Linked DNA regions of Homo sapiens. The protein of the gene in region 1 interacts with the protein of each later gene in a pairwise test. Each region holds a gene or a part of one and is shown in the gene's direction. Other genes may lie near its edges. The genes, in order: TRIM54, ELOA and ZFHX3.

Region 1 (3,751 bases):
TTGACAACTGTAGGCATAATCAGATTGTCTGTTTTCTAAGTATGGGGCAAGAATAGGACTTTTGGAAAGAATAGGACTTTTCCTCTACCTTCAAACCACTTAGGAAGAATACCCTTAGAGCATTGCCTAGAAAGTTAACGGTTATCAAAGTGATACCAGTATATCACTTAGAATTTGTAACATGTAAACATACTGTTTTCAAGCAGTATAGGAGTTCATATCATGAAAAGCAAATCTGCTATTCACCTCAGACCCTCAGTTGTCTCACCAGATAGAAGTAACTATTACCAACTTTCTTGGGAATACTTCCAGAAAATTTCCACAAATCGGCACATTTGCATGTATATGTGTTCTCAGGCGAGACCCATCGCCCCCCACCTGCCTTTGTTCACTTACTCGCTGTGGGTGATTGTTCCATATCCACCATTCAGATTTATGTCTTCGTTTTTAAATAGCTGTGTAGTTTTCATTGTTATGACTGGACCACAGTCTATTTAAATAATCTGTCCTCTAAAACATTTAGATGGTTTTCTGTGTTTTGTTGTCCTAAAAACTGCCGTGATGGACAACAAACAAGAGTTTTTGGGAATTGTGATTTTATAAGACCAAGTTAACTAGACAGCCAGGAAGCAAAATTTGAAAACAATTTATTTAAAAATACTGGCTACGTAAGGTGGCTCATGCCTGTAATCCCAACACTTTGGGAGGCTGAGACAGGAGGATCACTTGAGCCCAGGAATTTAAGACCAGCCTGGGCAACATAGTGAGACCTCATCTCTACAAAAAAGAAAATACTGTTAGTTGAACAGTATTAAGGGGTTGGGAGGAAATCATCCATAATCTTACCTCCCCAACACAGTTATTTTTATTTTTGCATATTATTTTTTTTTTTTTGAGATGGTGTCACATTATGTTACCCAGACTGATCTTGAACTCCTGGGCTCAAGTTATCTTCCTGCCTCAGCCTCTGGAGTGCACACCACCAAGCCCAGCAATTTTTGCATATTACATTCAAGCCCATGTCCGCAAACATTTTTACATAGTGGCCATCTTAATGTAATTCTTTTTAGAGCTGTAACAACTCTTTCTCTCTGAATTGAAACAGAATGAAACACCAAGACACCACATTAACCCCCTCTAATTTCTTCCTCCTTCTTTCCCCACACTTGCACCCACTCAGCTACCAAGAACTTCCACTAAAGGAAAGCTGTTGGTGTGGGAATTTGACACAAACATCTTCCCATGTGTTTCTGTATTTGTAAATTCTATTCACTCCTAAACGGCTTTAAAGCAAGCCTTCAGTTTATTTTTATACCTGCCTCCACTTCACTGTGGGCACTTGTTTTTGAGCCTGCAACCTGTTGTAATTTAACAGACAACCAAAAGGCCTTGTAAGAAGGTTGTTCTGGAACAGCTTTTCTGGAGGAGGTCTGTCTACAGAGGGACTTGCAGAGGGGGGATTGTCAAGAAAGAAGCCTCCTTCTCTAACAAGGGGCAGTCTGAGAGAGATGACTTTTGTTTCGCGCCACCCAAATTCCATTTCTTTATCCTTTAGTTGTTAGGACCAGGTGTCATCAGGTACAGGCCTGCCAGAGAAGATCCTACCCAGCCTGCCTCCTCAACCACTTCTACCCATTCTGAAGGCACCAGGATTTCTTCAGTCCAACTTTGGGCAGGTCTCCCTGATGCAAAATTGGTTCACTAAAATTTTGTGAATTGCATTAAATTTGTAGCAGGGTTAGGGCTCTTACTTCTGTAGGGAAGATCTTGATTTAGTGAGAACGAAAACCTAGACTAAGGCTTAGCACTCCTGGATTCTCCTCTGACGGGTTTCTTTGTTAATTTGCCACACAATGCATATCAGGCTATTTCACCACTTCAAGCCTGTTTACATAACTATAAATGAAAAGGGTGTTTTCTTTCTTTCTTTATTTTTGAGACAGGGTCTCATTCTATCACCCAGGTTAAGTGCAGTGGCATGATGATGGCTCACTGCAGCCTCGACTTCCCAGCCTCTAGCCATCCCTCCTACCTCAGCCCCCTGAGTAGCTGGGACCACAGGTGTGCACCACTATGCCTGGCTAATTTTTTTGTAATTTTTTGTAGAGACAAGGGTCTCTCTATGTTGCCCAGGTTGTTCTCCAACTCCTGGACTCAAAGGATCCTCCCACCTCAGCCTCCCAAAATGCCAGGATTACAGGCATGAGCCACTGTTCCTGACCGAAAAGGGTGTTTTAAACTGATTTTTTTTTTCCCAGAGACAGGGTCTCACTCTGTCACCCAGGCTGGAGTGCAGTGGCACGATCATAGTCCACTGTAACCTTGAACTCCTGGGCTCAAACAGTCCTTCTGCCTCAGCCTTTCGTGTAGCTAGGATTACAGGCATGTACCACCACACTCAGCTAATTAAAAAAAAAATGTTTTTGTACAGACAAAGTCTTACTATGTTGCCCAAGCTGGTCTCAAACTCCTGGCCTCAAGCGATCCTCTCAGTTCAGCCTCCAAAAGCTCTGGGGTTATAGGCGTGAGCCACTGCACCTGGCCTTAAACTGACCTTTAACATCTCTTGCAATTCTAACGATTTGGTTTCACAAAGTCGAAAAATATTTTTGTGGATTTCCATTTTTTGAGGGCTTTCCATTCTGTGACCAGTGTCCTAATTTGGCCCACTCTTCTGCTTATCACTCCTCCTTTCAAGCAGTAGGGCTTGGTTTACCAGCCCCTTGGGCCAAGCTCTTCCCTAGGTTCTACCGCCCATAGCTAGCCCTCTGTTTACAGTCCCTCTTATACCTGCAGCTCAGCTTTTACCAAAACCTGGATTCTTCTCAGGCGCTTCAGCTTTTCTCCAAATGTCTGGTCTTCTGCCCACCGTTTTCCCAAGGTTTTTCCAGCATATTCTGAGTGTCTGGCTCACAGAACTTGGATGGTCCATCATTCATCACTGGCCAGGCCTTCAGGTTGAGGGAAATAGCCTCCAAAAAGCCCCATTGCATCCAGAGCCTGTGTCCCAAATTAGCACCTCTCTGGATAGCCAGGGAAGAGGGAAAACATTCTGACATAAGTATGGATTTGCTAGACTAGCTGCATTTACAGAGCATCTTTCTAGATGGAACATTTCTATTAGATGCTATGGAACATTACAAAGGAAATAGAAGGCACCGTAAAGCCTAAAAGAGAGAGAGCTCATGGCATATATTCCACACAACAGCCTTGAACATAGCCTAGAATTAAATTCCATTTATTTGTTCCATTCCATCTTATCCTTCACAGTGGAGAAAGAACAGTCATTTCGTACCCTGTGGTTCTGTGTGGTCATTTCTTTTTAAGGTCTAGATTAGGATTGTTAACAGTCCTCTGTGTTTGTGCAGTGCCTTATAATTTATAGAATACATTCACAAACATGATTCCATTTGAGTTAGATCGAATGGATGTTATCTCCGTTTTACAGAAGAGAACATAGGAAACAGGTCACAGTCACACAAACAAAGGGACAGACTAAGGACATAAATCTAGGTGTTCTGTTATGTTTCCTAGAGTGATGGAATTTCCTCTACACATCACATCATTGGCACGTGAAATTTTACTTTATGGGGCTGGCTTCCTTGCATAAATGTAAGATTTAAGGAAAGAACAGGACATTTATGTGTATAATAGAACCAATCAGTTATCTCTTAGTCTTGAAATGGAAAGATAAACAGAAGCAGAAGATAGGATTTTTCTAACTGGATATTAGTCAGCTGAAAGATCTTTA
Region 2 (3,751 bases), on another chromosome or scaffold:
GCTGCTGCTGTTATTAGCAGCCCTTTATCCTATGTGTTACATAGGATTTTTGTCTGAAAGAAAAAAATGTCTAATTTTCATAGCAAAAGAAGTAGAAGCCACATAAGGGTCTATCAGCAGGAGACTAACAGATAAATCATGGTTCATCTACACAGTGGCATCCTATGCCACAGTAAAAAAAAAATGTGGAAAGTCTATGCACTGACATGGAATGATCTCTCAGATGTGGCAAATGAAAAAAAGCAATGTATGTAGTGAGTATGTTATTAATTGATTCATTGGCTTAAAAGGAATAAGATACATTTGCTTTTTTTTGTTGTTGCTGTTGAGAGTCTTGCTGTGTTACTCAGGCTGGAGTGCAGTAGCTCCATCTTGGCTCACTGCAGCCTCCACCTCCTAGGTTCAAGCAATTCCTCTGCCTCAGCCTCCTGAGTAGCTGGGACTACAGGTGCATGTTGGGCAGGCTGATCTCGAACTCTTGACCTCAGATGATTCATGTGCCTTGGCCTCCTAAAGTGCTGGGATTACAGGAGCTTATTTTTAAATTCTCTGGAAGGATCTACAAAAATCTGTAGCGTGGATTGCCATTGGGAAAGGGAAGTAGGAGGCTGAAGGGGGTAGAAGGAGAGTTTTCACTGGATCACTTAGGGCCTTTTGTGTTTTTCTTGCCCTATAGCGTTCTCTTCACCCCAGGAAGAAGAAGAAGCTGGATTTACTGGGCGCAGAATGAATTCCAAGATGCAGGTGTATTCTGGTTCCAAGTGTGCCTATCTCCCTAAAATGATGACCTTGCACCAGCAATGCATCCGAGTACTTAAAAACAACATCGATTGTAAGTCACACGCTTCTCTCTAGCTCTCAAGCACATTGTAGCACTTGGACCTTATCACTGGGTGGCTTGGCTGCTACTCAGTGTCTTCACCTTTGGTTTCTCTGCAGCAATCTTTGAAGTGGGAGGAGTCCCATACTCTGTTCTTGAACCCGTTTTGGAGAGGTGTACACCTGATCAGCTGTATCGCATAGAGGAATACAATCATGTGAGTATTCTGTTTGGGTGGGAAGAGGGCAGTTTTCTGGCTTGTACCTCCAGAAATAGCTTTGTCCCTGTGACTCCGCTGTGGCTGAAGGGCAGATCAGTGGTCAGAGCATTGTTCTGGATATATTTGGTTTGCCACTGGGCCTTTAAACAAGCATGTTATTAGCACTTGCTCCTGGCACCTTAAGTGGGCCTCTTGGGCTAGGATCAGGGTGGGATTCAAAGGGAGAAGAAAAACACTTAACATCTCCCTTGAGCTTGCCTAGTCATGAAGGTAAAGGGAGAATTCTGGCAGCAGAGTAGCTGGGACCCAGGGCGGGGAAAGCACTTTGTGTTGACACTCTGACATCTGGTGATTGGCTGGATGTCTCTTAAGAAACATCAAGATTTATCCAGAATCCTCCTTAGGATGTAGGGTATACACATTTGATTGCATCAGCTGTCTCTCTTTAATTCTGAAAGTTCTATGACCTAACACCTTTTTTTTTTTTTTTGGAGATAGGGTCTACCTCTGTTGCTTCGACTGCAGTACAGAGGCCTAATCATGGCTTACTGCATCCTTGAACTCCTGGGCTTAAGTGATCCTCCCAAGTAGCTGGGACTACAGGCACATACCACCACAGCTGGCTAATATTTTTATTTTTTAGAGAGATGGACTCTCAGACTCTTGGCCTCCTGAAGTGCTGGGATTACAGGCATGAGCCAACGCGCCTGGCCAATAACTTAACATCCTTCTTAGGTTGCCCCTTTGCCATCACAGTTCAGCGTAGTGTTGGGAAGTACCTGATTTGACTTGATCGCAGTTCTACCCTTTGCTGATTTTCTAAAGGAAAAGACTGATGTTACACAGATTTTTGTGATATTCTGTCACAGCCACCAAAAGCAACTAGCATAGTGCCTCACACTTCGCATTTTTAAAATTTAGGGAGTTATTTTTTTCCTAGAATTGTGGTATTTTAACATACTACTAAGATGAAGACCAAAAAATTTTTGGGAAACTGGTCACTCCTAGGTAATTAAATAATCAGAAAAAGATATGAGGCTGGGCATGGTGACACACGCCTGTAATCCCAGCACTCTGGGAGGCCAAGGTGGGCGGATTATCTGAGGTCAGGAGTTCGAGACCAGCCTGGACAACATGGCAAAACCCCATCTCTACTGAAAATATAAAATAGCTGGGCGTGGTGGTAAGCACCTGTAGTCCTGGCTACTTGAGAGGCTGAGGCGTGAGAATCGCTTGAACCCAGGAGGCAAGGGTTGCAGTGAACCAAAATTGCACCACTGCACTGCAGTCTACACGACAGAGCAAGACTCTGTCTCAAAAAAAAAAAAAAAATATGGAAAAGTGCTTGTACACAAATGATGTCCTGGTTCTGGTTTCAGGTATTAATTGAAGAAACAGATCAATTATGGAAAGTTCATTGTCACCGAGACTTTAAGGAAGAAAGACCCGAAGAGTATGAGTCGTGGCGAGAGATGTACCTGCGGCTTCAGGACGCCCGAGAGCAGCGGCTACGAGTACTAACAAAGAATATCCAGTTCGCACATGCCAATAAGCCCAAAGGTAACAGAGACGGGAGAGCTGGGGGAGAACTGGCAGGATGAGTGTTCTGGTCAATAGCAGGGTGTTGGTGGGCTTGGCTGGTGTAGGACTGCTTGCCCCTACATCAGGTAGCAGGGTGGGTATTTCTTCTGCCACCGCCCATTCTACCCTACAAGTGGGGTTTCAGGGCACTCAAAAAGCCCGTGGATTATTTAAATAACAGTAGCATCTCTGCTCAAGAAGGCAGATGTTCATCTCCATAATTCCACAGGCCGACAAGCAAAGATGGCCTTTGTCAACTCTGTGGCCAAGCCACCTCGTGACGTCCGGAGGAGGCAGGAAAAGTTTGGAACGGGAGGAGCAGCTGTCCCTGAGAAAATCAAGTAAGATCTGTGTTCTTACCTGGCTTTTGTGTGCTATCAACCCTTAGAGGTAGCCATAGCGGCAGGAAGCAAATTGCTTTTGGTGAAAGTGAGGCAGTGCAGACTGTGGGCTCTGGAGGCAGACCTCATCAGCTCAGCACTTCCCTCACCTCCCTCAGCCTCCGCTTCTTGGACTGCAGTGCAAGGTGATAATTACCCCTGCCCTAGGGTAGTCAAGATTAAATGGAGAGCAAAGCCTGGCTTATGGGAAACATTCCCTTATGCTTTCCCTTTTCCCATCTAAACAAAAAACACATTTCTGCAATGATTGTTATTTTGTCTAAGCCACATTAGCCTTTTCAAAATACAGATTTATACCAAAACAGTGAAAAGTTAGTTGAGATTATCATTTTTTCTGAAAGGATAATGGAGACATCTCTGAGCCACCACCAGAATCCAGGGTGATAGGGTCCATTGGTCAAAGCCACAAACAGGGTGAGTCATCCTCACACAGGCCAGCTTCAGGCTGTTCATGCTCAGGGCAGATTTCTTGTGCTCATGCCTAACCAGTGTTGTCCTGTGTTGCAGGATCAAGCCAGCCCCGTACCCCATGGGAAGCAGCCATGCTTCCGCCAGTAGCATCAGCTTTAACCCCAGCCCTGAGGAGCCGGCCTATGATGGCCCAAGCACCAGCAGTGCCCACTTGGCACCAGTGGTCAGCAGCACTGTTTCCTATGATCCTAGGAAACCCACTGTGAAGAGTAAGTAACTTGGAGTTCCTGCTCAAATATTATTTCAGCACTAGTTTTT
Region 3 (3,751 bases), on another chromosome or scaffold:
TCTGTGATTACAGACTGCTGGAAAAGTATTTCTAGGGCTAGTGGTGATGTGGCTTAGTTCTAGCATCCAGGAAACATGTCCTTATTGTCACTGTGTGCAGTTGTTCCTTTTTGGTGTATCTTTCAGGGGTAGGAGCTTTTTTTCTTCCACCTACAAAGTATCAGTAAGAATCTGGAAATGCTTCAGGGCTCAGAGCAGACCCTTACTTAAGAAATTATTTTTATTGCAGAGTTGTAACAGTGTCATCTTAAAAAGTAAATATTTAAGTGACTAAGCAACATTTTGTAAAAGTGTAGGGAACTGGCTTGAATTATTTAAAGGGGAAGAAAGTGAGCTGTCTTTATAAAACTCACCTTTTGGCCAGGCATGGTGGCTCATGCCTGTAATCCCAGCACTTTGGGAGGCTGAGGCAGGCAGATCACTTGAGGTTGGGAGTTCGAGACCAGCCTGATCAACATGGAGAAACCCCGTCTCTACTAAAAATACAAAATTAGCCGAGTGTGATGGTGCATTCCTGTAACTCCAGCTACTCAGGAGGCCGAGGCAGGAGAATCGCTTGAATCTGGGAGGGGGAGGTTGCAGTGAGCTGAGATTGGGCCATTGCATTCTAGCCTGGGCAACAAGAGCGAAACTCCGAAACTCCATCTCAAAGCAAACAAACAAACAAACAAACAAACACTCACCTTTTAAGAGTAACTCACTTGTTTCTCAGCTCTAAGGATTTAGCCTTGACTTACAAGTAGGCAGCAATGATTCTGGTCTGAACAAACTTATATAAACTCCATCTCACCCTCACTCGTACTGCACACTGAAGATGCCTGTCAGTAACCTGAAGAAGTACAGTATGTGCTGTGGTTTATGCTTTCATTTGTTATTAAAATGATTGCTTGCTGTTAGCCTGGCCTATTTCTGTGATGTTTGGGCCTGTTGGCTTGCTCTGGTTCCTAAGGCTGGTGCAATTAACCAGGATGGGGGCGTTACTGTAAAAACACAACAGGAAGGCAGATTCCATTACAGTGAACCTCATAGGGGTATCCAAATGCTCTGGTATGAGAATTTGGTGGTAATGGTTATTATTAGAAATCACAGCACAGCTCAGAACCACCGTCCTCTGCCTGAGTTAAAAAACTATGGTCAGGGGAAATGGGAACCCAGTTTTAATAGAATCTAGGCAAGGGAATTCCTTGGCAGGAGCTAGTTTAAATCATAAAGGGCGCCTGTTCTGTCCAAAGCACAGTGTCCTGTGTCCTCAGGCCACTCAGATTGAGAAAGGAGCACACAGAAGCTACGGTTGTGTCAAACCGCCCCGAGGGAGAGACCCAGGCAGAAATCTTGGCTCATTGGCAAGCCACTTTGAAAATCCAGATTAAAGAGAAGCACTACAAAATCAACAACTGTCAGAGGGCTTTTCTCTATGATTTAAAGTTGACTGCCAGATTGATCTCTTTGAACATGTGCAAAGTGGCAATCAGATGTTGGAGGGCTTCTTTGGGCTAATATGGTAAATGACTTTGATATGGACAGAAACTGAGGACAGAGGTGCAGAGCAAGGCTTAGTGCCGATTGACAGCAGCACTGAGCTGAAGCTTCAGAAGTAGGGAAACGACTGGAATGTTTCTGGTTTTCATTCTTTGGGCCAGGGGACAGGTGGGTGAGGACAAGGCCGTGGTCTAGGCAGTGATGGGGGTGTCTCTAGAGAGTTATTTGCCCAAGGAAAGTACTTTGGCTTTTAACATTTAAAGGGGATTTTTTCTTTCTTTGACGTTTCTGCCTTTCAGCCTTCATTCATGGAGTTTCTTGCTTTTACAAGAATAAGGGCTCAAATAAAAACAGGGAGGGAGACATAGAAAGTTTGCGAGATGGCAAATTCAGCCCCATTTTGAAGCAAGACTTCTGTTTTGTTGGTTTTAACTCCAGCCCGGGCCTCTTAGCAAAATGCCTGGGCTTCATCTGCCTTTTGGGTGACCCCCTCTCCCTGTCCATCAGAGGGTCACCACAGCAGTCTCAACATGAGGATTACTGTGTGGGGGGTTTGATGTGTACCTTTCCAGAGGGGCCTTAGCTGGCTTGCTGTGTCCTGGAGGTCTTAGGTGGTTCTGCTGTGTGTTCTTTGAGCTTTGGTATTAACACATGTGCTGCCTCTGAGATTTGTCCATCCTTTTCCCTCCCTGGAGTCAGGTCTAAAGCTTCCAGTGAGGCGGGCAAAACATCTGCCGCACTCCCACCCCTACTCCTGGCTGCTGGTGGTTTGGGATGAAGCCACTGAAACTCCCTTGCAAGGCCACACCTTGAGAAGATGGGCCGGTGCTGGGATGCCTCTCACTTTCTATTCTGCTTGGTTTCTGGGAGGAAGCTAATGACATAAGGGGCCTAAAGGCTTTCTTAACTGGTGACCTGGAGTTTAATTGTAAGTGGGTCTTTCGGGGCAGCAGTTAGGAATGTATGGATCACCTTCAGTCATCTGCAGGGAGACTTGGACTGGAAGTGGGAGAACTGGCTCCACTGGACTCTGAAAAAGGCTGTGGAGTTTTCATCTGCTGCTGATTTCATCCACTGTCCCAAAAGTTATCTTGGCCACAAACCTTTGATCTGGGAGTGAGACCCCTCGCCCGATGCTTCTAGGGCAGGAGTCAGTGACTGCCTATACCCGCTGTTCTGTGTAGATGGGAGAGGGTGTTAGTTATTGAGTAGGGCTGAGTACTTGGGGTGATTTGGGGTGGTTAGGCATGATTGGGGCTTACACACTGGAGGGGTCATGTGTAGGCTTCTTGATGGGGTTCTTTCAGGAAGGAGGAGGCAAAAGAACAGTTTTGCTTGTTTCTTGGTTGTTCCTGACTCCATCCAGGAGTGTGACTGGAGAAAAATTCTTCTGAGTGTATCGGTTAGGCTGGCTTTTGGATAGATGGTCCCCGGTGCCCATTTCTATCATAGGCTCTGCATTTCAGTAGGAAGATTCTAGTTCAGAGGCGACTGCCTCTGTCTTCTCATTTGAATCTCCTTAGTGGAGAGGCAGGAGGCAGATTAGCCGAGTGCAGAAAGACCAAGGGGCTTAATCTGATAGTTGATCTCAGCCCTGCATCCCCTGAAAAAGTCATATAAGTGCCTGTTCAAATATGGAAGTCTGTCTCCCTTCAGTATGCAAACATCGCTTTTCAGAAGCATTTAAACTCCTGAAAGTCTATAAAAACCACATATGTGTAGACATGAACTGAGCTGCTCCCCATGCTTCCAGTCTCCTGAGTGGCCTATTTCTGATGACTTCTCCCTTCCCAACATCTTTGTCCCGTGGAAGTTGCTGAAGAACACATGGGTGCCTTTCTTCTCCATCTCCCAACTTCTCTTTTTTCTTTTTTTAAACAATTGTTCTTAACTACTCAAGAAGCAATGCAAGCCTCTTCCACCATTTAAGGCCCTGCTTCCTAAAATGCTCTTTGGCTCAAGGCCTTGGTTCTTAATGTACATTTGGCCTTGACTGGAGGAATGGTTTCTGCTTCCCTTTTAACAGCTCCGCTTTTTTTTGTGGAGTATCTGCATCAGCGTTAAAGTGTCAGGTCAACTTTTGGACACTTTAGAAGAGGCTCATGGATTTCAGTGTGTGCGGCAGGAGGTTGGTGTCACTACTCAAGCGACTGCTTTTAAATGCCATCTCTGTTCTGATGGAATCTTGAATAGTGTCCCCTTATGTTATTTGATAACGTAATTGAGATGGGCATTGATGAAGACTTTCAGTCTGTGTAACTGACTATATGAA

The links.
Region 2: the proteins of TRIM54 (region 1) and ELOA interact in binary tests that used the Homo sapiens proteins (3 or more experiments, as listed by UniProt).
Region 3: the proteins of TRIM54 (region 1) and ZFHX3 interact in binary tests that used the Homo sapiens proteins (3 or more experiments, as listed by UniProt).

The regions. Positions count from the first base shown.
Region 1 is NC_000002.12:27,285,285-27,289,035, forward strand, and holds part of TRIM54 (tripartite motif-containing protein 54), read left to right. Parts: intron 1-3,751. UniProt on the Homo sapiens protein: May bind and stabilize microtubules during myotubes formation.
Region 2 is NC_000001.11:23,753,424-23,757,174, forward strand, and holds part of ELOA (elongin-A), read left to right. Parts: intron 1-676; coding exon 677-832; intron 833-939; coding exon 940-1,037; intron 1,038-2,419; coding exon 2,420-2,600; intron 2,601-2,850; coding exon 2,851-2,962; intron 2,963-3,529; coding exon 3,530-3,702; intron 3,703-3,751. UniProt on the Homo sapiens protein: SIII, also known as elongin, is a general transcription elongation factor that increases the RNA polymerase II transcription elongation past template-encoded arresting sites.
Region 3 is NC_000016.10:73,041,528-73,045,278, reverse strand, and holds part of ZFHX3 (zinc finger homeobox protein 3), read left to right. Parts: intron 1-3,751.